7 linked regions of the Homo sapiens genome follow. The protein of the gene in region 7 purifies or fractionates together with the protein of the main gene of each other region. This does not show direct contact. Each region holds a gene or a part of one and is shown on either strand. Other genes may lie near its edges. The genes, in order: OXSR1, DNAAF5, LARS1, CAP1, TPX2, TBC1D2B and GSTM3.

Region 1 (3,500 bases), on a different chromosome or scaffold from region 7:
CCTACTGCATGCCTAGGCTATTTAGTGTAGCCTGTTGCTCTGACTACTGTCAGATACACAGTATATTGTTGGCCAAAGCATTAAGAGGCTCATGACTGTGACTTTAACCCAGAGTTCTCCAGCTAGTCAGACTATCATTCAAGAATGAGCATGAAATTATTTTGCACACAGAAATTGAGTTTTCCAGTCACGTTCTGTCACTTAAAGAACCCATAAGTTGTACTTTAGAAAGAAGGAAATGAAGTCAGAAGAAAGGAATGAATAATAAGAAGCAATGTTGAGCAATCACATTGTTGAGCATATTGAGAAGCAATTGTTGAGCATATGAAAAAATAAGAGTGATAATGTAGGATTTCAGTTTGCATAGCACTTTCACATTTATTCAGCTTTTTAATCTTTATAATAATCATCTGAGGTGCTGGTTCTTAAACTTGAATGCCTATTGGAATTACCTGGGGAGTTTTAAACATTACTAAAGCCAATTAAAGATTCTGCTTTAATTGGTTTGAGGTACAGCCTGGTCATTGGTTTTGTTTGTTCGTTTGTTTGTTTTTGAGACAGTCTTGCTTTGTCGCCCAGGCTGGAGTACAGTGGCACAATCTTGGCTCACTGCAACCTCCGCCTCATGGGTTCAAGCAATTCTCCTGCCTCAGCCTCCCAAGTAGCTGGGACTACAGGCGCACGCCACCATGCCCTGCTAATTTTTGTGGTTTTTTTAGCAGAGACTGGGTGTCACCATATTGGCCAGGCTGGTCTTGAACTCCTGATATCGTGATCCACCCACTTTGGCCTCCCAAAGTTCTGGGATTACAAGCATGAGCCATGGTGCCCTCTGGTCATTGGGATTTTTACATTCTTCCCAGATAGTTCAATGCACAGCAGTGTTTAAGAACTTAGGGGCTTGGCCAAGTAATACTGAACCTTAGAGAGGTTGTGATTTGCTCAGGATCAGGTAGGTGTGTGGCAAAATCAGGTCCAGTCTCTTAAATGTTAAATTCTTTATTCTGAATGATACTCTTTTAAAAGCTTGTAAAATTGACAGTCGTGTCTTTACTTAAAAGGAAATAAGACCATGAAGAAATGAGTTAAACACTGAGTTTTGTTAAATTTGGGGAATATACTTTTAGAATTTTCATTTTTAAAGGGAGATTGTGAAATCTGTTTTTAGGGATCTGTGGTTACCTAAATTGAAGGCTGGCAGGCTACCATGTGGCAAGAAGTGGAGGTCTTGATTTGGTCCATTTCCTCTTTGTGTGTTTAAATATATTTTTATGCCTTGCTAAAAATGTTAGATAGATATTTTCTAGCTTACTTATTGGGAAATAATATTAAATATTAAATTAATATTATTAAATAGCAAATATATTAGACTCTATTAAGAAATCATGCTTCCAGAAAAAACATTTCACTAATGATTTTTTCAAAGAATCTACAATAATTATCAGAATATTTGTTTTGAGTTTTTTATTTTATTCAATGTCCTGTATCAAGTTTATTTTACTTTTGCTTTTTAGCAGTTTAAGGAAAGTAGAGTATACTGAGTTTTTATTTTGCTGTTGAAAAAAATTTTTTCTCATTTTTGATGATGGAATCTGACATTACACTTGAATTAATTATAAAAACTTTTCTTCCCTCCCTTCCTGGTTTTAGACCAACAGCAGCAGAACTATTAAGGCACAAATTTTTCCAGAAAGCAAAGGTAGGAAATTCCAGCTTTTGATTATGTGTGTTCATAGGATGCTCCTCAATTACTCAGATTATGTTCAGTGCTTAGAAGTTGGATGATTATGTTTGGAAAAATGATGGTAGATAAAATAATTGCAGAAAGCACTATGTATACAGTCTTTGATAATTAAGATAATTGCTTCAGAATTTAGTAAATCCGTTTTTAAATATTAGGTTAAACTGATCATAGGAACAATGATTATTAAATTTTGCCATTATAAATATAATTTGTGAAAAATACCGAACTCTGGTTTTAAGGTTTACTACTGAATTTGTAAACATCTCATTTCCCAAATATATCAGATAGTAGGATGTTACTGTAGTTGGAAATGTAGGACCATGATCTCAAAGAACATACAGTACAGCAAACTCTTCATAGACAGTGGTTCATACAGTGTACTACATCTTAATTTTCTGCCTCAATTTATGAAACTGTGGTAGTAACATACTAAAGGAGCTTCAGAGTGAAAGAATGAAAGTTTTTCTCACACTTCATTACAGAACAGTTACTATATCACATTTTGATTATGGTGAACTTTTTTGTGGGTTTTTTTTGGTACCTTAAAAACTTGTAAGAACAAAATACTTACTTTTCCTCTCCAGAATAAAGAATTTCTTCAAGAAAAAACATTGCAGAGAGCACCAACCATTTCTGAAAGAGCAAAAAAGGTAAATCAGAATTTAACTCAGTTTTCCTGAAGAATTTACTTTATTTTTGCATTTTGAAAACATGTTAAGTAATACATTGTTAATAGTATATGAGAATTACTGGTTTTCTGTCGATCCTTTCTAAAGCATTCTTTGATACATTCATTCAGCAAATATCTTTGGTCTACCATATGCCTTGGTATTACTCTGCTATCTTTTAGGATGAAAAGGGATGCTAGACAGTAATTGGTAAATTAATTCTAAACTCTGTTTGATAACTGTTTCCAGCTACCAGAGTGAGTTGTGATTTTACATGACATTTATAGCTTTGGGTATAAGTCACAGTACCCTCTTTGGAACTCCAAATTTTCTACTGCCTTTACAGAAAGACTGAAAGAACTTTATTACGCATATGTAATTTCTAAGAAGTTTGGTCATGATGTGAGCATACAGAATGCTTTAATATCTCAGTTTGGGCAGAATATATTAATCTTCCTGTCCATGATACTTTTATGAACCTCTGTGAGAGCAGGGAGAAGAAAATCCTCCCTTTTCCTCACTCTTACTTCTCTGCTCAAGCAGACTTATCCAATGTGAAGGAAAGGAGGCAGTTTGGGCTTCTGCTGATGATAGACTTGAAGAAGGTAAAGGTCTTACACCTTGTATAATATAGTGGTAGGCCTGTCCAAGAAGTTAGAAGCATTATGTCTAGCAGTGGCTTATTCTCTTCCGTAGATCTCACTGCTTGGGAATTTTGATACATTCCAAGAATTTAACACAATGAAGAACCAGAAATGTATATTAAATACTTGGAAATGATATTCTTAATAAGCACTGGTAAAACAGTTAACTTGTCTCTATTTTAGAGATATATCTTTTTCAGTGGCTATAATGCATCGTTACATATCAGAATCACTTGGGGACTTAAAAAAAAAAAGAAAGAAACATGGACAATGTCATCCCAAACCAATTAAAGTCATGACTCTAGTGGATGAGACCTGGACAATTATTCTCATGGATAGCTACTAGGTTAAAAACTCACTTGGCTCATTCCTTCACTTTATGTCAAGTCTACTCAATTGGCCTTTCCTCAGAATAATATTCTCTGATTACTAAAACAGTACCCT
Region 2 (3,500 bases), on a different chromosome or scaffold from region 7:
AGCGAGACCCTGTCTCAAAAAACAAACATTTAGAGCCACACAGAGATGCAAACAACACACTTGCCACACGTGCTGACGTGTATGATCAGAGAGACACGCCTGCGAAGCCGTCCCCCTATGATCAGAGAGACACACGCCTGCGAAGCCATCGCCATATGATGAGAGACACGCCTGCGAAGCCGTCCCCCTATGATCAGAGAGACACACGCCTGCGAAGCCATCGCCATATGATGAGAGAGACACGCCTGCGAAGCCGTCCCCATATGATCAGAGAGACACACGCCTGCGAAGCCATCGCCATATGATGAGAGAGAGACGCCTGCGAAGCCGTCGCCATATGATCAGAGAGACACGCCTGCGAAGCCATCCCCATATGATGAGAGAGACACGCCTGCGAAGCCATCGCCATATGATGAGAGAGACACGCCTGCGAAGCCGTCGCCATATGATCAGAGAGACACGCCTGCGAAGCCGTCCCCATATGAGAGAGACACGCCTGCGAAGCCGTCCCCATATGATCAGAGAGACAAGCCTGCGAAGCCATCGCCATATGATGACAGAGATACGCCTGTGAAGCCGTCCCCATATGATGAGAGACACGTCTGTGAAGCCGTCCCCATATGATCAGAGAGACATGCCTTCGAAGCCATCGCCATATGAGAGACACGGCTGCGAAGCCATCGGCATGGTGGGGGTGACAGCTGCGTCCTTCGCCCGGCTTCCTCTGCTCCTCTGCACTGCAGCCCCCAAGGCACCCCGGCACCCCTGGATCTGTCCCGTGACTGAGCTGCACTTTCTAGAGCCTGACACAAGTGGAAGCCTCTCGTTCACTCTCCTCCCTTCTCCGCTTCTTTCACTCTGCATCGTTTTCTGAGGCCCGCCTGTGCCCGCTCCTTTCTGAACCTGGGAAGTGGCCTGTTCTGGGGAGATGCCAGTTTAGTGCCCGCTCCTCTGTGGAGAAGCATTCAAATGGTGTCCAGGGCAAGTCTGTGTGGCCTGGGCTTTCACTGTGCCGGGACAAATACCAGCTGTGGAAGGGCTGGGCCACAGGGAAGGTGCACGTTTAACTGTTTTAGAAACTGTCCAACCATTTTCCAAAGTGTTTGAGCCAGTCCGCGCTCCTTCCCACTCTCAGCGGCACGCGGTACGCTCAGTCTTGAATTGAAAGCAGTCCGAGAGGCACAGTGGCATTTCCGTGTGCTTTTCCTTTGCATTCCCCGATGACTAACGACGCCGAGCGTCTTCTTCACAGGCTTGTTTGCCGCCTATCTTCCCTGGTAAAGGGTCTTTCCAAATTGTTTTCTGCCCATTTAAAAAAATGGATTGTTTTCCTGCTGAGTTTCAAGAGCTCTTCCTATACTCTGGAGATAAATCCTTACATACATCATCTCCAAACATCTCAGTCTTTGGTTTGTCTTTTCGTTTTTTCAACAGGCCTTTGAAAAAGCAGAAGTGTTCATTTTGATGAAGTCCACACATTGCTTTACCCTGTTACAGAGCGGTCTTTTGAGGACGCACCCAGGGAAGCGTGGCCCGGCCCACGGTCACGAAGCCTTCGTCCTAGCTCTGCGGTCTTTTGAGGATGCACCCAGGGAAGCGTGGCCTGGCCCGCGGTCACGAAGGCTTCGTCGTCACTCTGCAGTCTTTTGAGGATGCACCCAGGGAAGCGTGGCCCGGCCCGCGGTGACAAAGGCTTCGTCATCACTCTGTGGTCTTTTGAGGACGTATCCCGCGAAGTGTGGCCCGGCCCGTGGTCACGAAGGCTTCGTCGTCACTCTGCAGTCTTTTGAGGATGCACCCAGGGAAGCGTGGCCCGGCCCGCGGTGACAAAGGCTTCGTCATCACTCTGCGGTCTTTTGAGGACGTATCCCACGAAGTGTGGCCCGGCCCACTGTCACAAAGGCTTCGCCCTAGCTCTGCGGTTCTGGGCTTTACCTTCAGATCCCTGACGCATCTGGGGTTAATTTTTTGACTCCAAGTTCACTTTCTGGTGTATGAGTGATCCTATCATTTACAGTATCCTTATTAAAAGATGCCATTAAATGGTCTTTGAGCCTTCATCAAGTCAGTGGTCCGCGTGCGGGCGCCTGTTTCTGGACGCTCTCGTTCTGCTCATCGGTCTGAAAGCCAACACCACGTGGCCCCATGACTGTGGTTTTGTGAGTCTTGCACCCAGGACCTGCTGCCATTCAGCTTCACTCCTCCCCAGTGTTTCGGCAGCTGTGGGTCCTTTGCACGCCCACGAGAATTTCACAATCAGTTTGTCGATTTCTACAGAAAAGCCTTCAGGGACTTTGATGAAAAGATTCTGATCTTCAAAATTCAGGCCGGGCACGGTGGCTCATGCCTGTAATCCCAGCACTTTGCGAGGCCAAGGCAGGCGGGTCACCTGAGGTCAGGAGTTCAAGACCACCCTGACTAACATGGTGAAACCCCGTCTCTACTAAAAATAGAAAAAATAAGCCGGTCGTGCTGGCGAGCGCCTGTAATCCCAGCTACTCAGAGGCTGAGGCAGCAGAATCACTTGAACCCAGGAGGTGGGGGTTGCAGTGAGCCAAGATTACACCACTGCACTCCAGCCTGGGCGACAGAGTGAGACTCCATCTCAAAAAAAAAAAAAAAAAAAAATTCAGAACAACTGTAAAGATAGAAATGAAACCATGATATGTCAGGATTTAAAGGGTCTTTTTCTATTTTTAGAGAAAGGGTCTCACTCTGTCACCCAGGCTGGAGTGCAGTGGTACGATCACAGCTCACTGCAGCACTGACCTTCTGGGCTTAAGTAACCCTCCTGCCTCGGCCTCTCAAAGTGCTAAGATTACAGGTGTGAGCCACTGCATCCAGGCTAAAGGGTATGTTTTAATAAGAACAGCTTGTACCAGGACACCCCATTTTTAACCTTTTTCTGGTTATTTTTCTGTTTTTATCCTGTATTATGGAATTAGTTCCAAATAATTAAAATTCTGCTGGCTGTTTAAATGATCCTGTCATCATTTTGTAAAAAACAAAAAAGCCAGGGTGCAAACACACCTCTCTTCGTTTTTTTTTGAAATGCAGTCTCGCTCTGTCATCCAGGCTGGAGTGCAATGGTGCGATCTCAGCTCACTGCAACCTTCACCTCCTGAGTTCAGGCAATTCTCCATTCTCATGTCTCAGCCTCCTGAGTAGCTGGTACTACAGGTGCATGCCACCACACCTGGCTAAGTTTTGTATTTTTAGTAGAGATGGGGTTTCACCATGTTGGCCAGCCTGGTCTTGAACTCTTGACCTCAGTATTACAGGCATGCGCCACCACGCCCAGCTGCACCTTTCTTCCTGATGACGATCCGCTCTGGAAAGTTTGCAAAATGAGAGATGCGTGACCAGGAACAGCCGGGGAGGGGTCTGCTGACAGCTGAACAGAGCTTTGTGGGCACCTGGGCTTCTGGGTGTTTCCAAAGAAATACTGGCCGGTGCTGGGCAGGGGTACGCAAGGCCTGGACACAGGCTGGGACTGGTTT
Region 3 (3,935 bases), on a different chromosome or scaffold from region 7:
CCTTGGCTTTCCAAAGTGCTGACATTACAGGCTTGAGCCATCGCCTTTGGCCAACTTCCACTTTATTACTAAATTCCTCCTTAACCAACTTGAGTTGACTTCTGTTAAATGCAACCAATGATCTTAAGACATTTATGCAGTTGGGCTGTAAATTCTCAACAGGCAGGAACTTTTAAATTGTTTATAGTCACCTTAGCACAAAGTACAATGCCACAGACACAGAAGTTATGTAACAAATATCTTTTACCTAAAAATTACCATGAGCAGGACATGGGAACACTGAGGCCAGAGGATCACTTGAACCCAGGAGATCAAGGCTGGCTGCAGTGAGCTATGATTGCACTACTGCACTGCAGCCTGGTTGATAGAGTGAGTCCCTGTCTCAAAAAATAAAAAATATGGCCAGGTGCATTGGCTCACACCTGTAATCCCAGCACTCTGGGAGGCCAAGGTGGGCGGATCACTTGAGGTCAGGCGTTCAAGACCAGTCTGGCCAACATGGTGAAACCACAACTATACCAAAAAATACAAAAATTAGCAGCGCATGGTGGCGCACACCTGTAGTCCCAGCTACACAGGAAGCTGAAGTGGGAGAATCACTTGAACTTGGGAGGCACCACTGCACTCCAGCCTGGGAAAGAATGAGACTCCATTTCAAAAAAAAAATAAAAATAAAAATAAAAAATATGATCATGTCACCCATTGTAAAGAAGACTATGAAAGCAAGTCTTTTACAAATTACTTAGAACTATGTGTTTCTTTTCATTGTACTGAGTATGCCAAATGCAAGAAAGCTTTTATTTGAGTTTTCTGTTTCTCAGAAAAACTTGTTTCTCAAAACCTCAAAGATCAAGTATAATAAAATCTGATATTGGCCCAAACACCAACTTGTTGTATAACCTTGAGCAAGTCATTTGATCAATCTGAGACTCAACCTCCTCACTGGTAACAAAAGGCTATATAACTAAATCAGAGTTCCTAAACTTTGGCACTACTTACACTTTGGGCCAAATAATTCTTTGTTTTCAGGGGTTGTCCTGTGCACTGCAGGATGTTTAGAAGCATCCCTGGCTTCTACCCGGGATCCCTGCTTTTCACTTACACTGTTGCCCCTGCCTGGAAATCTCTTTCTTCCTATAGTTGCATAGGTTGCTCTCTTACCTCGTTTTTGCCACCTTTTTGGCAAAGCCTTGCTTGATCATCCTTTTAAAAATTGCAACAGGCCAGGCGCCATGGCTCACGCCTGTAATCCCAGCACTTTGGGAGGCCGAGGCGGGCAGATCACGAGGTCAGGAAATTGAGTCCATCCTGGCCAATGTGGTGAAACCCTGTCTCTACTAAAATACAAAAAATTTAACTGGGCATGGTGGCGCGCGCCTGTAGTCCCAGCTACTCGGGAAGTTGAGGCAGGGGAACCGCTTGAACCTGGGAGGAGGAGGTTGCAGTGAGCCGAGATCGCGCCGCTGCACTCCAGCCTGGCGACAGGGCAAGGCTCCGTCTCAAGAAAAAAACAAACAAACAAACAAAAAACAAAAAAAAATAAAACCAGGCGGGATGGCTCATGCCTGTAGTCCCAGCACTTTCGGAGGCTGAGACAGAAGGATCGCTTGACCCCAGGAGTTCGAAACCCTGTCTCTACTAAAAATACAAAAAATTAGCAGGGTGTAATGGAGCACGCTTGCAGTACCAGCTGTGGGGAGGCTGAGGTGTGAGGATCGCTTGAGCCCTAAGGTCCAGGCTGCAGTGAGCCATGATCACGCCACTGCATTCCAGTCTGGGTCACAGAGTGAGAACATCTCCCAAATTTAAAAAAATTTTTAAAAATTGCAACTGTACTACCCCACCGTACACTCCCTAGCACCCCTTCCTGCTCTATTTTTTCCCCACAGCATTTATCAGCACCTGACACAATATTTTACAATGTATTTTACCCACACACATAAACACTATGAAAAGAGAGATTTTTGTCTGTTTTACGGAGAGGCGCTCAATTTTTTCTTTTTTTTTTTTTTTTTTTTTTTTTTTTTTTGCTGTAAGTAGGAATCAACTTACATACTCCTCTCTCCACCTCGGCTTTATTTGTTTGTTTATTTATTTATTTTATTTTTAAGACGGAGTCTCACTCTGTCGCCCAGGCTGGAGTGCAGTGGCGCGATCCTGGCTCACAGCAGCCTCCCTCTCCCGGGTTCAAGCAATTCTCCTGCCTCAGCCTCCCGAGTAGCTGGGTTAACAGGCGCGCACCACTACGCCCGGCTAATTTATGTATTTTTGGTAGAAACGGGGTCTCACCATGTTGGCCAGGGTGGTCTCGAACTCCTGACCTCAAATGATCCACCCGCCTCGGCCTCCCAAAGTGCTGGGATTACAGCCGTGGGCCACCGTGCCCGGCTCTCCACCTCGATTTTAGAAACTCCAGAGAAATAACAAATATGATATCCAAGTACTCCGTAAAGTTAACAGACATCAGTTCGTGGTTCATAAACTAGCAAGAAAAAGCAAAGTCTCTACGAAAGGCACGCCTTAAGCGTGGCTCTCTTTTAGAAAAGGACTTTCCCTTCAGGACAGCACATGGAGAGCCCCTAGAGACTGGCCAGTCCGGCTCCAGGGCCCCTGCGGATTCTTCTCGCTCAAACTCACCGCCATTGCACCGCCCAGCCGACTGTGCAAATCCACGACAATGACCCTGGCGACCTCCACAAAGGAGTGGTTACCTTTCCCCTCCCTCTCGGGGATGCCAGGCCTCCCACGAAACTAAAGCACACGCTTCACACCTGCTGAGGCAATCATCCGGCTCCTTACTAACTACAGCCAAGGCATCTCACAGCCCGCCGGGAATTGTAGTTCCCAGACCACCCGAGCAGACACCCAGCAGGCGCTAACTGACTACAATTCCCAGAGAAAAACGGGTTATCGGAAGTCTACCCGATAGGCCCACTCAGAGGGGAACCGGCAGTGACGTCACTGGCATGTTGAACTACAAAGTCCATGATGCAGTGCGGGATCGCAGAATGCCGCGAGTGCGCCCTGGTTAGGTTGGAGTCCCTTGGCCATCAACCTTTTCACCCGGTAGAGCTGGTTGCCTGTCGGGATGCCAGGATACGCAGTTAATTACTATACGGTGACTGAGGTGCTACTTATGGCTTGCCACTATGCACAGATATTTTTTACTGTCAGTGGCATTCAACAGCCCAGCATTTAGACATTGTATAACCGCGTATTGACAATCTCCTTTTTTTTTTTTGAGACGCAGTATCGCTCTGTCGCCCAGGCTGGAGTGCAGTGGCGCGATCTTGGCTCAGTGCAACCTCGGCCTGCCGGATTCAAGCAATTCTCCTGCCTCAGGCTCCCGAGGAGCTGGGACTATGGGCGCGCGCCACCACACCGACTAATTTTTTGTATTTTTGGTAGAGACTGGGTTTCACCTTGTTAGCCAGGATGATCCCGATTTCCTGACCTCGTGATCTGCCTCCCTCGGCCTCCCAAAGTGCTAGGATTACAGGCGTGAGCTACCGTACCTAGCCAACAATCTCCTTTTTTTTTTTTTTTTTTTTTTTTTTTTTTGAGAGGGAGTTTCGTTCTGTCTCCAGGCTGGAGTGCAGTGGCGCGGTTTCGGCTCACTGCAACCTCCGCCTCCCGGGTTCAAGCGATTCTTCTGCCCCAGCCTCCTTAGTAGCTGGGACTACAGGCGCGCGCCACCGCGCCCAGCTAATTTTTGTATTTTCAGTAGAAACGGGGTTTCACCATATTGGCCAGGATGGTCTCGATCTCCTGAACTCGTGATCCGCCCGCCCCAGCCTCCCAAAGTGATGGGATTACAGGCGTGAGCCACCGTGCCCGGCCAACAATCTCCATTTTTAAGCAAGAGACTGAAAGCCTACCTGGTCCCATTGCCTGACTCAGACTATTTAGACCACTACCAAACAGGGCCAGGGGCG
Region 4 (3,500 bases), about 70 Mb from region 7:
CCATGCCTGGCTAATTTTCTAATTTTTTCGTAGAGATGAGGTCTCACTGTTTCCCAGGCTGGTCTCTAATGATTCTCCTGCCTTGGTCTCCCCAAAGTGCTGGGATTACAGGTGTGAGCCACTGTGCCCAGCCAAGTTCAGCTTTTTCTCAAGGGGTAAAGGATAAACCCATTTGGTTACTTGCTGGAGTAGCACTTTGGAGTTACTGAGGGCTGCCCTTAGCCACTGTGCTGGTTTTATCTCAGGGCTGCTTTCTGGAGAGCTTTACAGATATTGTCTCACAGCTGCATTTGCAAGCAGGAAATACTTCTGCTTCCACTTCTGCTTTCTCTCCTTTTTTGGTAGAGGCCCTTTTAGTCTTCTGATCCTTACCCTTCTGGGTTTAGGAAGTTTTGCTGGCAGTAACATGGACTAATGCCCTTTATATAAGATTTTGTTCCTTTGTTGAGAATTTGTTACTGGCCCAATGGCAAAGGGTTCAATAGGACTTAATAGAAATTTTTCATGAAGTCAGTTAAAGTGAGAGTAAGGCTGCCTAGCCAATGCAGGTATTACGTAGGGCAGTCATTGCATGTCTAACCACATACGTCTACCAGTTCTGACTTCTCCATTGCTGGTTTTGAGCTGGAATGATTGCAGGCAAAATTTATTAAGTTGCATATCTACACAAGCCTTTCCTTTCTTCCATCCTTCATCAATCAACAAACATTTATTAACTACTCTTTTTAAGGAAAACTACACCTTCCTGTGAGTGAAATGTGTCCCAGAACAACAGGCACTTCCTTATCCTTCTAGCAACATGGAATTAAGCATGACAGTGTTTTGATATATCCCACCATTATCCCATCACTTTACAGTTGAGGAAACTAGGTCTTAGGCTAAATAACCTTCCCAGTTAATACATAAGAAGAGAGGGGACTTGAACCGTAGGCACAATGCTATTTCTATAATTTAAGGCTGATTGTTTCCCCCTAAGGGAAAGTTTTTAAGTTTGCTTTTGGTCAGGGTGGGCATATTTTGACATAAGGCATTGTCTCATAAGGCAGTTAAGTTTCTTAGTCTTTAGAGTTCCACAGTGATACTTAAGAGCTCTCCTCTCTACCATGGTTTTATGCACAGAATGTCTGCTTTTATCAGTTTTACATATTAGATTGTGTTTAAGGTCTACTTTGAAAAAAGTTTCAATAAGCAGCAAGTGGTCAAAAGAAAAAAAAAAGTTTTGGTACTTAAAACAGTTTGAGAAACATTGCTATGAGAGATAGAGATAGAATCCAGAGTCTCTATCTTAGTGGAGTTTGGTCTGATTAGGGTAATAGACTAGGTTGTATATACATAGAAGCTGGTGATGATAGAAAAGCTGCCATTGAGCGGAGCCTAAGAAACACCACGGGTAGGAGAATGTGAGCCCATAGGAAAGAAGGGTTCTGGAGTCACCACTGTTATGTACCCGGATCACCTGTGACAAGTTCTTCTTTAATCCTCCCAGGGATAAGAAGCATGTAGACTGGGTCAAAGCTTATTTAAGTATATGGACAGAGCTGCAGGCTTACATTAAGGAGTTCCATACCACCGGACTGGCCTGGAGCAAAACGGTTAGTGAATCCTTCCTCCCTCCCTCCCTCCCTCCCACTTTCTCTCTCCAGCATGGGGTCCACAGGTTTCTTAGACTTCAGCACTACCAAAGTCTGTGAGGGAATGCTAGTTTTTTCAGTGGAAGGGAGGAAGAAAAGGAGGAGAAAGAAAGGGTAAAAAGAGTAGAGGAAGCAAGGATCAGAGGAGAAGGAATATTCAGTGGTATTCAATTTCAATAAATATGTTAGGGACAGTGATTGGTGCTGGAGCAGGAGACACACACAAATGAGTTACACTATCCCAGCCTTTAAGGAGCTTAAAAATAAGAATGCAAAACCCCAATACAAATCACCAAGCCAAATGCTATAATAAAGATACAGACTAGAGTATGAGGAAGAGAAGAGTGCTTCTCACTAGAAGAGATTGTACTTTGAAGGTATATACTCTTCTGTGAGACTTGAAAGTAGTATAGGGCAGTGAGAAGTGGGATACTACAAAAGGCACAGCTTAAACAAAATACATGCAGAGTAAATGTAGAGATTGGTCATCTCTGGCTTCAATAAGGGGAAATGATCAGAATTTTAGGAGAAAAGGCTGGAAAGGAAGGTAGGCTGAGACTTTGGGATGAGGTATTTGAGCAAGGGAGTGATAATGATTCAATTTGTCTTTAAAAGAGTCTCAGTGTATAGGTTAGGGATAAGGACTCATGCTCAGATTATGAAAGTGGTCATGGTGTTTGGGGGATAGTAGAAAAACATTTGCAGGAGATAGCACCAAGATAATAGAGATTTGATAAGGTCGAAGAAGTTGGAATCCTCAAAGAAGATTGAATAGTCAGTCTTGGATAGTAACATCTTTCACTGAAATAGGGACAAGGGGATGATTGTACAGGGAGAGGAGCGGCAGGAAATGATGAAATCAGTTTTGAATCTGTTGAATCAGAGGTACTGGTAACACACTAAGGAAGATGTCAAGTAGATTTGTGGAAATAGTTTTTAGAGCTGGAATCAGGTGAGTTCAAAGGCAAAATGTGATGGTCAAGAAATAGAACTGAGAGCTGGATCCTTGGGAAAGGGTGAGAAGGCATAAAGCCAAGTTGGGTATGGGTAGGACACATTAATCATTGCCTCAAAGGCTGTGGTGGGGACCCCATGTGCACTGGCCCATGTAGGGCACTACTGGGAATGGTACAGAGGGGAGCAGAGAGGATGATGATGTTACCTGCACTTATTGTTCCAGGGGCCTGTGGCAAAAGAACTGAGCGGACTGCCATCTGGACCCTCTGCCGGATCATGTCCTCCTCCCCCTCCACCATGCCCCCCTCCTCCCCCAGTCTCTACCATTTCATGCTCATATGAGTCTGCTTCCCGCTCATCACTGTTCGCGCAGATTAATCAGGGGGAGAGCATTACACATGGTGAGTGAGCACTTGGACACGAACAGTAGGTACAACAAGTTGTGTGGGCCAGACCCCACCAACCAGAACCGTCTGTAAACTACAACCCTGGCTTGTGTGGTGGAGACTCGTTTGGTGTGTCCTGTTCCTTTAAGGGACGGCAAAGCTGGCTTAAATGGAAATTGAAAATGATGATCACAGTTGGAGGAAGCCATCTGCCCCATGGGAAAGTGACTTAATATTAGGTAGCATATATAGAGGACCCTCTTGTGCCAAGGCACAGAGCTGGCGGTTTTCCCCAGAGCTTTTTCCGTGGCACCACATGGCCTCTGGGAAGGCATTGTGTTAGGGAGTTAACTTCCTCAGAAGATGCATACTGGTTACATGGAAAATTTGCATGAGAGTGACCTAATGTTGGTATAAAGTAGATACCCTTAACACAGCTGGTGGAAGTCTGAGTTGTCCAGCCACTTCTAGGAATCTATGATCATAGTAGCTAAAAATGGTGTAACAACCTAAATCCAACTGTAAG
Region 5 (4,011 bases), on a different chromosome or scaffold from region 7:
CTGTGTGAAGGCATAACATACATGATTAAGTGGTTACTGAGAGAGAGTTAACAGAATATGGAGATATTCTGACATAAGACAGAAAAAAATTACAAAGTACTGTCCTGGGCCGGGCATGGTGGCTCACGCCTGTAATCCCAGCACTTTGGGAGGCCGAGGCGGGTGGATCACAAGGTCAGGAGATCGAGACCATCCTGGCTAACACGGTGAAACCCTGTCTCTACTTAAAATACAAAAAAAATAATTAGCCGGGAATGATGGCGGGCGCCTGTAATCCCAGCTACTCGGGAGGCTGAGGCAGGAGAATGGCGTGAACCCAGGAGGCAGAGCTTACAGTGAGAAGAGATCGCACCACTGCACTCCAGCCTGGGCGACAGAGCGAGACTCCATCTCAAAAAAAAAAAGTTCCTGGACCCACCTCTCAAACTACCCATTTCCCAATAAGATGTGACCTCCAAAGGGGCTTAACAGATTTAAAAACATCAAATAACACAATCAGGGAGGGAAAGACAAAACGTATTTATTCCAGGCCAGGTCTTAAAATGCACACTGCACGGTTCCCTGTTGTTATCAGCACCAGTAAGGAAAGAACGTGCCTTAACGGCAGCCCCACCCAGAGCCTGCTGCGTGGCTGCTGTGAGGCTCCCCATGAATCCACGCAGTCTTCTTCCTCACTGGTGCAGTTGGTGAGGTTTTCTACCCTCACAGCAAAGGGATCCTTAACTATAAATTCACGGTATGCAGAGAAGAGGACAGAATCTGATTTACTGATTGTTCCTCATTTAAACCATGACTTAATCTCTATCTTAGGATTTAACTATCTTTATTTTCTGGTTAAAATTTTTAAAAAAAGTGGGGAGAGGGTGAGAGTCGTAAGGGGCAATAGCAATAGAGATTACACTGTGCTGACACAGAGACTAAATTCTAGTCAGAGTGAAGACCCATATAAAAGGCCGGCTGATGGTTTAAAGGAAGTAACTACATGGAGTCTAATCGAGACATTCATGAGTTACATCTCATTATTAGCCTTAGTAATGTAAGAAAACAATTCTCAACAAAACTGGAGTCCACAGTTGTCAAGTATGCTTTCTCAGGCACGGGTAGGTAAAAGTCTGGAGAAATGGGTTCTCTCCATGCCCAATGACAAAGCAAGACGGTCCTAGGTTTGAGGTTAAGAGCAGGTCCCATTGCCGGGCGGTATCCGCAGCTCACAGCTGAGTTTAGCAGTGGAATCGAGTGGAGAATTTGGGAGATACAGGCACAGTCAGAGGCTGGTCACTTGACTTTATCTCCAGACCCTGGTACTTGCGTATTGGATTTGCCTTATGCACCTGCAAAGTAAGGAAAAGTTACCAGTGAGAGGGATGTCAGAGAACTACGCTTATAATTGCTTTTATTTTTTTCTTTTTGAGAAAATGTTTGTAGAGTTTTACAGGTCCCAGTCACTAGTTTCAGGTGTGGGGAGTGGGGCCTGGGGGGCAACACGGTATGATGGAAAAGTGTATGTGCTTTGGAGCCCAAAAGGGTTTCTATTCAGGTCTCTATTGGGTCCCCCAGCTTTCCTTTAGGCCACAGTCTCCTCAAGTCCCTCAGCTTTCACTAAAGAATGCCAAACCTATGTCCTGTGTGATTTACTAGGGTATAATAGGGCTGTACTCAAGTATAGCAGAGAAGTTACAAGCTAAGAATTTCCCAGAGTACAGTCTTAAGTTTACTGACTATAAATATTCACCAAAAGCCTGAATCCTGGGGAAAAAGCAAAAACAAAACACAACAACCATACCAGGAAGGGTGGCTAAAGAAGGCATGGTCCCATCCATCCTTTAGGGTAGTCTAAAATCAATCCTAAATCAAGCCAGATTAGTAGAGAGTTAACCAGCATTGACTGAATTGTGCTTTACAATGTTGCCATCAGTTATGTTGAGAATTGCTGCAAGAAGCAGTTCTATAATGGGGACAAACACAAGAGGCAGGTACCAAATGCTAAAGAAAAATCAAAGTTGAGGCCGGGAAAAAAGGCTGATTGTATGAGTGTATATAGAGTGGGGATTATACTATTTTCTCATTCACTCAGCAAATGGTAGTCTAGATTTTACCAAGAGGCTGGTCTCCTAAATAGTGTGTCCGTGGAACCTTCCTATGGGCATAATCACCTATGCCAATAGCTGCCAATAGCTGTTTCAACTGCTAGTCTAGCATTTTATTTATTTATTTAAAATAGAGATGGGACTTTGCTATGTTGCCCACGCTTTTCTTGAACTCCTGGGCTCACGCAATCCTCCCACCTTGGCCTCCCAAAGTGTGAGGATTACAGGTGTGAGCTGCCACATCCAGCTGTAGTATAGCACTTTTAGACAAAACCTCAACAACTTACACTTCTTTTTTTTTTTTTTTTTTTTTTTTGAGACAGTCTCGCTCTGTCACCCCCAGGCTGGACTGCAGTGGCACAATCGGCTCACTGCAACCTGGGCCTCCCAGGTTCAAGCAATTCTCCTGCCTCAGCCTCCCGAGTAGCTGGGATTACAGGTGCGTGCCACCATGCCCGGCTAATTTTTGTATTTTTAGTAGAGACAGAGTTTCGCCATTTTGGCCAGGCTGGTCTCCAACTCCTGACCTCAAGTGATCCACCCACCTGGGCCTCCCATAGTGCTGGGATTACAGGTGTGAGCCACCATTCCTGGCCTTCTTTCTTTTTAATTGACAGATAACACTGTATATTTTTATTGTGTACCGCTGATGTTTTAAAGTAGACATACATTATGGAATGGTTACTATGTGAGATAATGCATTTGTTAATTAGCAAGATGCTAATTAACATTGTAGTGTGAGCACATAACATCCACTTATTGTAGTGTGAGCACATAACATCCACTTTCTTTACAGTTTTCAAGAATACAATATATCATTAACTACAGTCACCTTGTTATATGATAGATCTCTTGAAATTTACTCCTCCCATCTAACTGTAACTAAGTAACCTTTTACCAACATCTCCCCATGACCCTTTCTTTTTTTATTTATCATACGAAGTTCCATCTAAAACTGTCTGCTTCTTCATTAACACAGTTAACACAACTTGCTGCCCTCCTAGCAGATTGGTCCTTAATGTGGAGTTCAGGTTTCTTTTTGGATAACCAACATCTAAATAATTATGTTAGTAGAGGATTACCTGGAGCGACGAACACTGTAACTCCAAGGAGTTTGGGCTCAGTATTAAAACAAAAATACAGTTGCCATTTAATTCCCATGTCCTTCGCTATGTATTCTTGTCTAATTACAAAACTCAGTGGTGCTTCTTAACCCCAGAGGAAATAATAAGTTACATAAATAAAATAAACAAATAAATAAAAAACAGTCCTAGGAAAGGCATCATGGTTATACCACATGTTGTCCTCCTTATGAAAACTTCCGGAAGAAATTCTGTCTAAAAATTCACTATCAAAGGGATAAATGTATTTTTTGAACAACTGTCTTATGTCTCATGAACACTGCGAGTTTTGTAACTGACAGGTTGGTTCCTAAAAAGGGCCAAAATTACAGCTCCTACTTAGATCACAATGTACACATCGTTAGCTTCATTCACAACTCAACTTCATCACCACCCTCAGTTTGTGCAATTCCCCCTTTCACTCATTGTCTTTGGTACAGCCTTGCGGGCTACCTTAGATCCTGTCTGGTACAAGGTAAGGTACAGGTAAAATAAAACAGAGGCATGTTTGTGTTCGTCAGTGCTCATGCTCCCAGTTACCAGTTCTCTCCGTAGCCTGGCCAGCTCCTCTTTTTTCTGCTCTTCCTCCTGTAGTCTGGCCTCCTCCAACTGCTGGGCTTTCTGGGCTTCTACCTCAGCCATTCTCTTCTCCAGCTCCTGCCGCTCTTTGGCTCTCTTCTCAGTAGCCAGCTGAAAAGGTTCCTGAACTAGAGAACCAGAAAGGCCCTCTAAGTACAGAAACAGAAAAAATATTGGTGCACAAGCAGGACTTGCATAAACCTACGCCCCCTGGAATGAGCAAG
Region 6 (3,500 bases), on a different chromosome or scaffold from region 7:
ATAAAACAAAACAAAACAATAAAATAAAATAAAATATTCCAGAAAAAAACTGTGGGGAGTGAGGAGGTAAAATGAAACTATATTGGCAAAACATTAACAATTGCTCAAGTTAGTTGCACACAGGGGTATATGTTACATAATTCTGTCTACTTCTTTGTATGTTTTAAATTTTCCATAAGAAAAAGTTGAAAATAAACCAATATATATGGTTATTTCACTTATATATAAAATTTGAACACACAATATAAATAGTAAGAGCACAAAACGCTTTTGCATGGGAAGAACACACAGCACGTTTAGAAGCGCTCCAAGAGCTCACAGAAGTTAACAGCCACCACGATGAGCAAAGCAGCAATGCCCAGCGTACTGGTGGAGCTACTGCACCTGGGAACCCGACTATCCAGGCTGAGGGCCTGTCCTCACCACTCACAGGCTGGGTGACTCTGGGCAAGTTATATCACTTCCATACTCCGCTTCTTCACTTGTAAAGTGAGGATAAAAACACTCACCTCACTGAACATTAAGTACAACTCTGCACATAAAACCCTTAGCACAGCTCCTGGCACATGGCAAACATCCATAAAAGTGTTTAGTAAAGATGGTGTTGGGTACTTTCTGAGCATATTTCTGTCATCTGAGTAGCCCAAACAATGCAGGCTGGTGCTGTAAGCTCAGAGAAGGGAAAGGTCATGTCAAACTGAAGCAAGGCTTCACCTGGGCCTACAGGGGTGGGGCAGGAGAAGCAAGGAGACTGCAGTAAGCAAGGCCTAGACACAGGGCTGGTCCTGAGTCGTGGAAACAAGAGGCTGAACTGCGTGAATCTGTAGATTTCTCCTGGTTCAAGTATTTCATGAGTCTCATATTTTTTAGAAGACAGGTTATGAGAGGGTTCTTAATCCAAGATCCATCATTGGCTTCCAGATTTAGTGCTTTCCCCAAAAATATATGGGGGGTGTGTGTGTGTGTAAGCTCAGTTCCCCACTTAAGGGTCCCTTTGTTTTGAACCACCTGTGGGTAGGGCTATGTTTTAGGAGAAGGTTCCTATTCCTTGGAAGACTGGCTCCTCCTGAAGTAAGGAAGGATCAGAAGGAAGGCTCCCTTACTTACACGAAAAATAGGTCTTGCAATCAGAAGACCTGTGGTAAGTCCCCGCTCTATGACTTGATTACTAGGGGAGAATGAAGACATTACCGTTCTGCTGACCTGACAGCATTTGTCATGAGCACCAAATGAGACACACAGTTGTGTACGGCTCTCTGCGAATGGTTCCTGCTGTTGAAAAAGGGACTTCAGAAATGGGGTGCACTACCCTCAACAGTCACTAGCACATTTACCTGACAAGATGAGGTTTAACAAATGCTTGCTCCGGCTGCTCTTGGCTCTCAACCTGCAGAGCATCCTCCAGCAACTGGGCTATGACCTCCCGGGTGGGCCCCTGGTCTTCTGAGCACACTGGTGTCTTCATTTCTTGGAGCAATATCAGGTATTTACTTTCTATCTGGCAGAGCTTGGCTTCCAGGCTAGAATACTGCAGAGAATGTGGTGGTTACCTCCATTCAGACAGAGACACAGGAAGAGCAATCTTTAGGTACGCAAATGACCAGTGAACAACAAACCCAAAACTATTAGGAAGTGAGCCAGAGACAGACTGTAGCAAAGACAAGAAATTAATTTATGCCACAGACCACCTTTCATGTTTAAAATGGCCTGCAGTGGGTTCCTCTCTTCCTTATAGAAGGAGTGCTGATAATCAGACCTCTGGATGCCAACAAATGCATCACCTCTGGACAGAGGTGGAGAGAGCAGCAGGAACCAGGCTACATGCCAATTACTGAGGTCCAGCTCGGTGCCATCTGGCACATGGCCCATGAGTGGCCACTCCATGCTATACCCATTCTTTCTTAGGACACTGTGGTCCAGGACTAGCTCCCATCTGCCACCTTATCAGACAAATCAAATATACCCTAGAAAACATGCAGGAATAAGGTCTGGGAAGATGCTTCAAGTTCTGTTCAAAAAAGTATATCAGGTATATAACAGCTGTTGACAAGTATCATTTGATTACAGCTCATTTGATGACAGCTGAAATGTTTGTGGTCCCATTACACTTTGTGCAAAGCCCCTTCCAGCCATAATCATATCTGACTTTCACACCAACCCTATTGGGTTCACAGAGGAGGCATTTACCTCACCATCTCCATAAATACAAAACTGAACAGCATAAATCAAAACCCAAATAATCTTAATTTAGGTGACCTTATAATTATGTACTTACTTTGTTTTCTTCAAAATCTATTAAAAATGCTTATGAACAAAGGTACACAAAGAAAGCAATACCTTATGTTCTTTTTTTAACTAGAGAAACTGAACACATTTTCTGTAGCTTCTCATTCTTACTTATCCAGTTTATGTGAAAAACTCACATCTCACGGCATTTATCTGTCTTCATCAGAGATAATAAAATGAGACTAACTATACAGCTCTATGTATTATATGTATTTTAAATATATTTTGTTATCAGTAACCACATCTCTCCAAGCCTGGGAGTTGAACCGCTTTGTAAAGCATGCTTATTTTTAATGGTTTCCTAACCTTACCTCCCACCAGGTAATAGAATCCACCTATCCTGACCCACCTTTGCCATCAGATCCCTCTCTCTCCTTTCTGCATTTCTTCGTAGAGCTGAGAGTTCCAAAATCTCCTTATTTAGAAATTTGTTTTGGGTTTTGTACCCCTGTAGATTATCCTGTTAGAAAAAAAAAAAATCCCTGAATTCACATTGGTTGAATATTGACTAATTAATTACCCTATGTAGTCAGTAGCTTGCTGCTTCACCAATCAAATAGCCCTGCTAAGTTAGAGTAAGTTCTAAAGAACTAGAAGTTGTTAAAAGGCACTTCCTAATTAATCTTTTTGGCCATTTACAGTAGTAGAAGGCAGGCAGGCATGACTGCCGTAACGGAGATGGAGAAGATATTTTTATTTAATTGTGGTAGTTTTTCTCAACTGATGACAGGAGAAATAAATATGACATATTCCTAAATCTATGCAAATATTTTATCTATCCATATTCCATATTCATTGAGGTGGTTAAAAAAAAGCAATACCTTACTTTTTTTTAAACTAGAGAAACTGAACATATTTTCTGAAGGTTCTCATCTTCACTTATCCAGTTTACGTAAAAAAAGTCTACATACATATACAGCCCATAACTAAAAATCACTCTTAATAACAAATCCTATGACCTAAAACGTATAAGGCACGTAAGAGAACATATTCTTCAACACTGAAAAATTTCAAACTTACAGAAAAGTTGAAAGAAAAGTACAATGAACACAATATAGCCTTCACCTAAATTAGCCAATTGTTAACCTTTGCCTATTTGCTTTCTGTCTATAAAAGAACATAACAAGCTGGTGACAAGTTCTGCCGAGTCCAACTTTGAGAGCAGGTCGGGGCAGGACACATGTCATATTGGCTTCAGCCCTTGAAACTCCAAG
Region 7 (2,301 bases):
AATAAGAACAGGTGATGGGATGTCACTGCTGTGATCAGATTACATAGGACTGTAGTGTTCCTTCTTCCAGCAGACTCCTTTACTAGCTTTGGTGAAATGGGTGGCCGTGTTGAGGAGATCCCTTTTGCAAGGAACTGAAGGTGGCTCTAGCCGACAGCCAATGAGAAATGGAGGGCCTCTGTCCCACAGGGAACAAAGAACTGACGCTATCAACAATTACACAGACTTGGAGGCAGATCCTTCTCCCACTGAGCCTGGGGATGAGATCAGAGCTCTGGATGACACACTGATGGCAGTTTTCAGATGAAACCCTGAGCAGAGGACCCAGTTCAGCTGTGCCCAGACTCCTAATCCACAAAACTTTGAGACCATAAACATGTATTGTTTTAGCTGCTAAATTTGTGGGAATAGTGTAGAAGTCTTCTTTTGCCCCTGGAGTATGGCAAGGTTCAGGCTATTGTCCCATGACCACGAAAAATTAGGCACATGGACATGGAGAGTGAGTAGGGCAGAGTAGAATTTATTGGGAAAAAGGAAAGCTCTCAGCAAAGACAGGGGTCTTGAAAGCAGGTTGCCAGTAAGGCGTCTGTGTTCTGTGTCTTTTATGTGGCAGAAGCTGGGAAGTCTTCTGTGGGTTTTGCCCAGATGAGAGAAGTAACATTTTCTTCTTGGGGTACTACAGCTGTGCATGCCTAAGTTTTGCCAAAGGGACTCCATCTTGGTTATTACCCATGAGTGCCTAAGCAAAACCCATGGGGGTGCTAAAACCACAATGCTAATGTCATGTTTAATGACATTATAATGAGCTGGGTTAAATTAGGGACATTTAGGCTGATTTATTGTGCCCGCACCAAAGTTGGGATGGTCACTTCTGAGCAACATCCTAGCTTAAGGGTAACTTCTTCCGTTTTTCCTATTAACTGTAGAGGCAGTATAGGCACTGTCTTGCCGTTGTTCTTGTGAACATAGTTCCTTTCTATCCCTTCTCCTGAGACCTTCCCTCTCTATGTGCCTATCCATCCCTTAACTACCTCCTCTCTTAACAGTGTTACACAGCAATAAATAATGCATTCCCTTTTTGATTTCTGGTCATATCATCGATCTAGCCCCAGGGGCATCCTCAATTTCTCTGTCCTGCCTTAAATACACAAGGGTAGAGCATACCGCTCCCTCACACTATGGAAATTATATCAATAGTTATCAGACTGAAAAACTTCTGAGCTTTATACCTCTTCTGGCCAAAGGCTCCCCCATGCCCAAGATACTGGCCTGAACACCTAATCCCTGCTCACAGGGGGTGGCAAAACATGGCAGTTGAATTGTCTGCTTAGCACCTTCTGTCTGTACTATTCCTCCTGACATCACTGGGTATCCCTGCCATTTGGGCCCTCTGACCATCACTAGAGAGATCCTTGGCTTCTGGTCCATAGGGGATGGCAATCTGGCCCACAGGCCTATCTCTGAAGACTATTCAGACTCTGCTCTGTGAAAGGAGAGTGGTGCCAAGTCATCTCCACAGGAGTCAGTGTTTCTTAAGTTTGCTTTCTTTTCTAAAAACTAGTTTCTACTACACAAGCAATGCATGAGCACATTCTCTTAGTTAGAAAAGCAAGTCTTAGCCTTAACTTGGAAATGCCCTTTAACTTCCACCATGGAGTCTGGGCCTTTATCCCACTTGCCTGCAGTAAGACTGTTATGAGTTTGGTGTTTCCCTCCAGACTCTTCTCTATGCTTGGAGATCTTTTTTATTTTTTTAAGAGACAGGGTCTTGCTCAGTCACCCAGATTGGAGTGCAGTGGCAAGAACACAGCTCACTGCAGCTTCAAATTCCTGGGCTCAAGTGATCCTCCCACCTCAGCCTCCTGGGTAGCTGGGACTATGCATGAGCAATTGCGCACAGCTAATTAAAAAAAATTTTTGGGAGACAGGGGTCTCACTATGTTGCCCAGGCTGGTCTTAAACTCCTGGCCTCAACTGATCCTCTCACCTCAGCCTCTGAAGGTGTTGTTATTACAGCTGTGAGCAACCACACCTGGCCTGTTTTGGGGATCTTTGCATGTTAGTTCACACAGTTCAGTCTCATTCTTCCGTTGCCACATGGTACTCCATAGTATTGACAGGTATTTACACGGTTTCCACTTATTTGTCATTACAGACAATGCCACAGTGAACATCTTAGTATATGTCTCTTTGAATGTTTTTTTTTTTTTTTTTTTTTTTTTTTTGAGACAGAGTCTCGCCCTGTAGCCAGGCTGGAGTGCAGTGGCGTGATCTCGGCTCACTGCAACCTCTGCCTCCCAG

Evidence for each region.
Region 1: the proteins of GSTM3 (region 7) and OXSR1 purify together in Homo sapiens (affinity purification with mass spectrometry; one large-scale study listed by BioGRID and IntAct). This does not show direct contact.
Region 2: the proteins of GSTM3 (region 7) and DNAAF5 purify together in Homo sapiens (affinity purification with mass spectrometry; one large-scale study listed by BioGRID and IntAct). This does not show direct contact.
Region 3: the proteins of GSTM3 (region 7) and LARS1 fractionate together in Homo sapiens (co-fractionation; one large-scale study listed by BioGRID). This does not show direct contact.
Region 4: the proteins of GSTM3 (region 7) and CAP1 fractionate together in Homo sapiens (co-fractionation; one large-scale study listed by BioGRID). This does not show direct contact.
Region 5: the proteins of GSTM3 (region 7) and TPX2 purify together in Homo sapiens (affinity purification with mass spectrometry; 3 studies listed by BioGRID and IntAct, with this or other methods). This does not show direct contact.
Region 6: the proteins of GSTM3 (region 7) and TBC1D2B purify together in Homo sapiens (affinity purification with mass spectrometry; one large-scale study listed by BioGRID and IntAct). This does not show direct contact.

What each region holds. Positions count from the first base shown.
Region 1 is NC_000003.12:38,228,037-38,231,536, forward strand, and holds part of OXSR1 (serine/threonine-protein kinase OSR1), read left to right. Parts: intron 1-1,650; coding exon 1,651-1,699; intron 1,700-2,328; coding exon 2,329-2,394; intron 2,395-3,500. UniProt on the Homo sapiens protein: Effector serine/threonine-protein kinase component of the WNK-SPAK/OSR1 kinase cascade, which is involved in various processes, such as ion transport, response to hypertonic stress and blood pressure.
Region 2 is NC_000007.14:750,699-754,198, reverse strand, and holds part of DNAAF5 (dynein axonemal assembly factor 5), read right to left. Parts: intron 1-3,500. UniProt on the Homo sapiens protein: Cytoplasmic protein involved in the delivery of the dynein machinery to the motile cilium.
Region 3 is NC_000005.10:146,179,851-146,183,785, forward strand, and holds the start of LARS1 (leucine--tRNA ligase, cytoplasmic), read right to left. Parts: upstream 2,801-3,935; 5' UTR 2,644-2,800; coding exon 2,638-2,643; intron 1-2,637. UniProt on the Homo sapiens protein: Aminoacyl-tRNA synthetase that catalyzes the specific attachment of leucine to its cognate tRNA (tRNA(Leu)).
Region 4 is NC_000001.11:40,064,729-40,068,228, forward strand, and holds part of CAP1 (adenylyl cyclase-associated protein 1), read left to right. Parts: intron 1-1,486; coding exon 1,487-1,592; intron 1,593-2,811; coding exon 2,812-2,989; intron 2,990-3,500. UniProt on the Homo sapiens protein: Directly regulates filament dynamics and has been implicated in a number of complex developmental and morphological processes, including mRNA localization and the establishment of cell polarity.
Region 5 is NC_000020.11:31,798,290-31,802,300, reverse strand, and holds the end of TPX2 (targeting protein for Xklp2), read right to left. Parts: intron 3,937-4,011; coding exon 3,749-3,936; intron 1,332-3,748; coding exon 1,221-1,331; 3' UTR 501-1,220; downstream 1-500. UniProt on the Homo sapiens protein: Spindle assembly factor required for normal assembly of mitotic spindles. Required for normal assembly of microtubules during apoptosis. Required for chromatin and/or kinetochore dependent microtubule nucleation.
Region 6 is NC_000015.10:78,015,212-78,018,711, forward strand, and holds part of TBC1D2B (TBC1 domain family member 2B), read right to left. Parts: intron 2,747-3,500; coding exon 2,636-2,746; intron 1,529-2,635; coding exon 1,335-1,528; intron 1-1,334. UniProt on the Homo sapiens protein: GTPase-activating protein that plays a role in the early steps of endocytosis.
Region 7 is NC_000001.11:109,733,437-109,735,737, forward strand, and holds the end of GSTM3 (glutathione S-transferase Mu 3), read right to left. Parts: 3' UTR 501-2,301; downstream 1-500. UniProt on the Homo sapiens protein: Conjugation of reduced glutathione to a wide number of exogenous and endogenous hydrophobic electrophiles. May govern uptake and detoxification of both endogenous compounds and xenobiotics at the testis and brain blood barriers.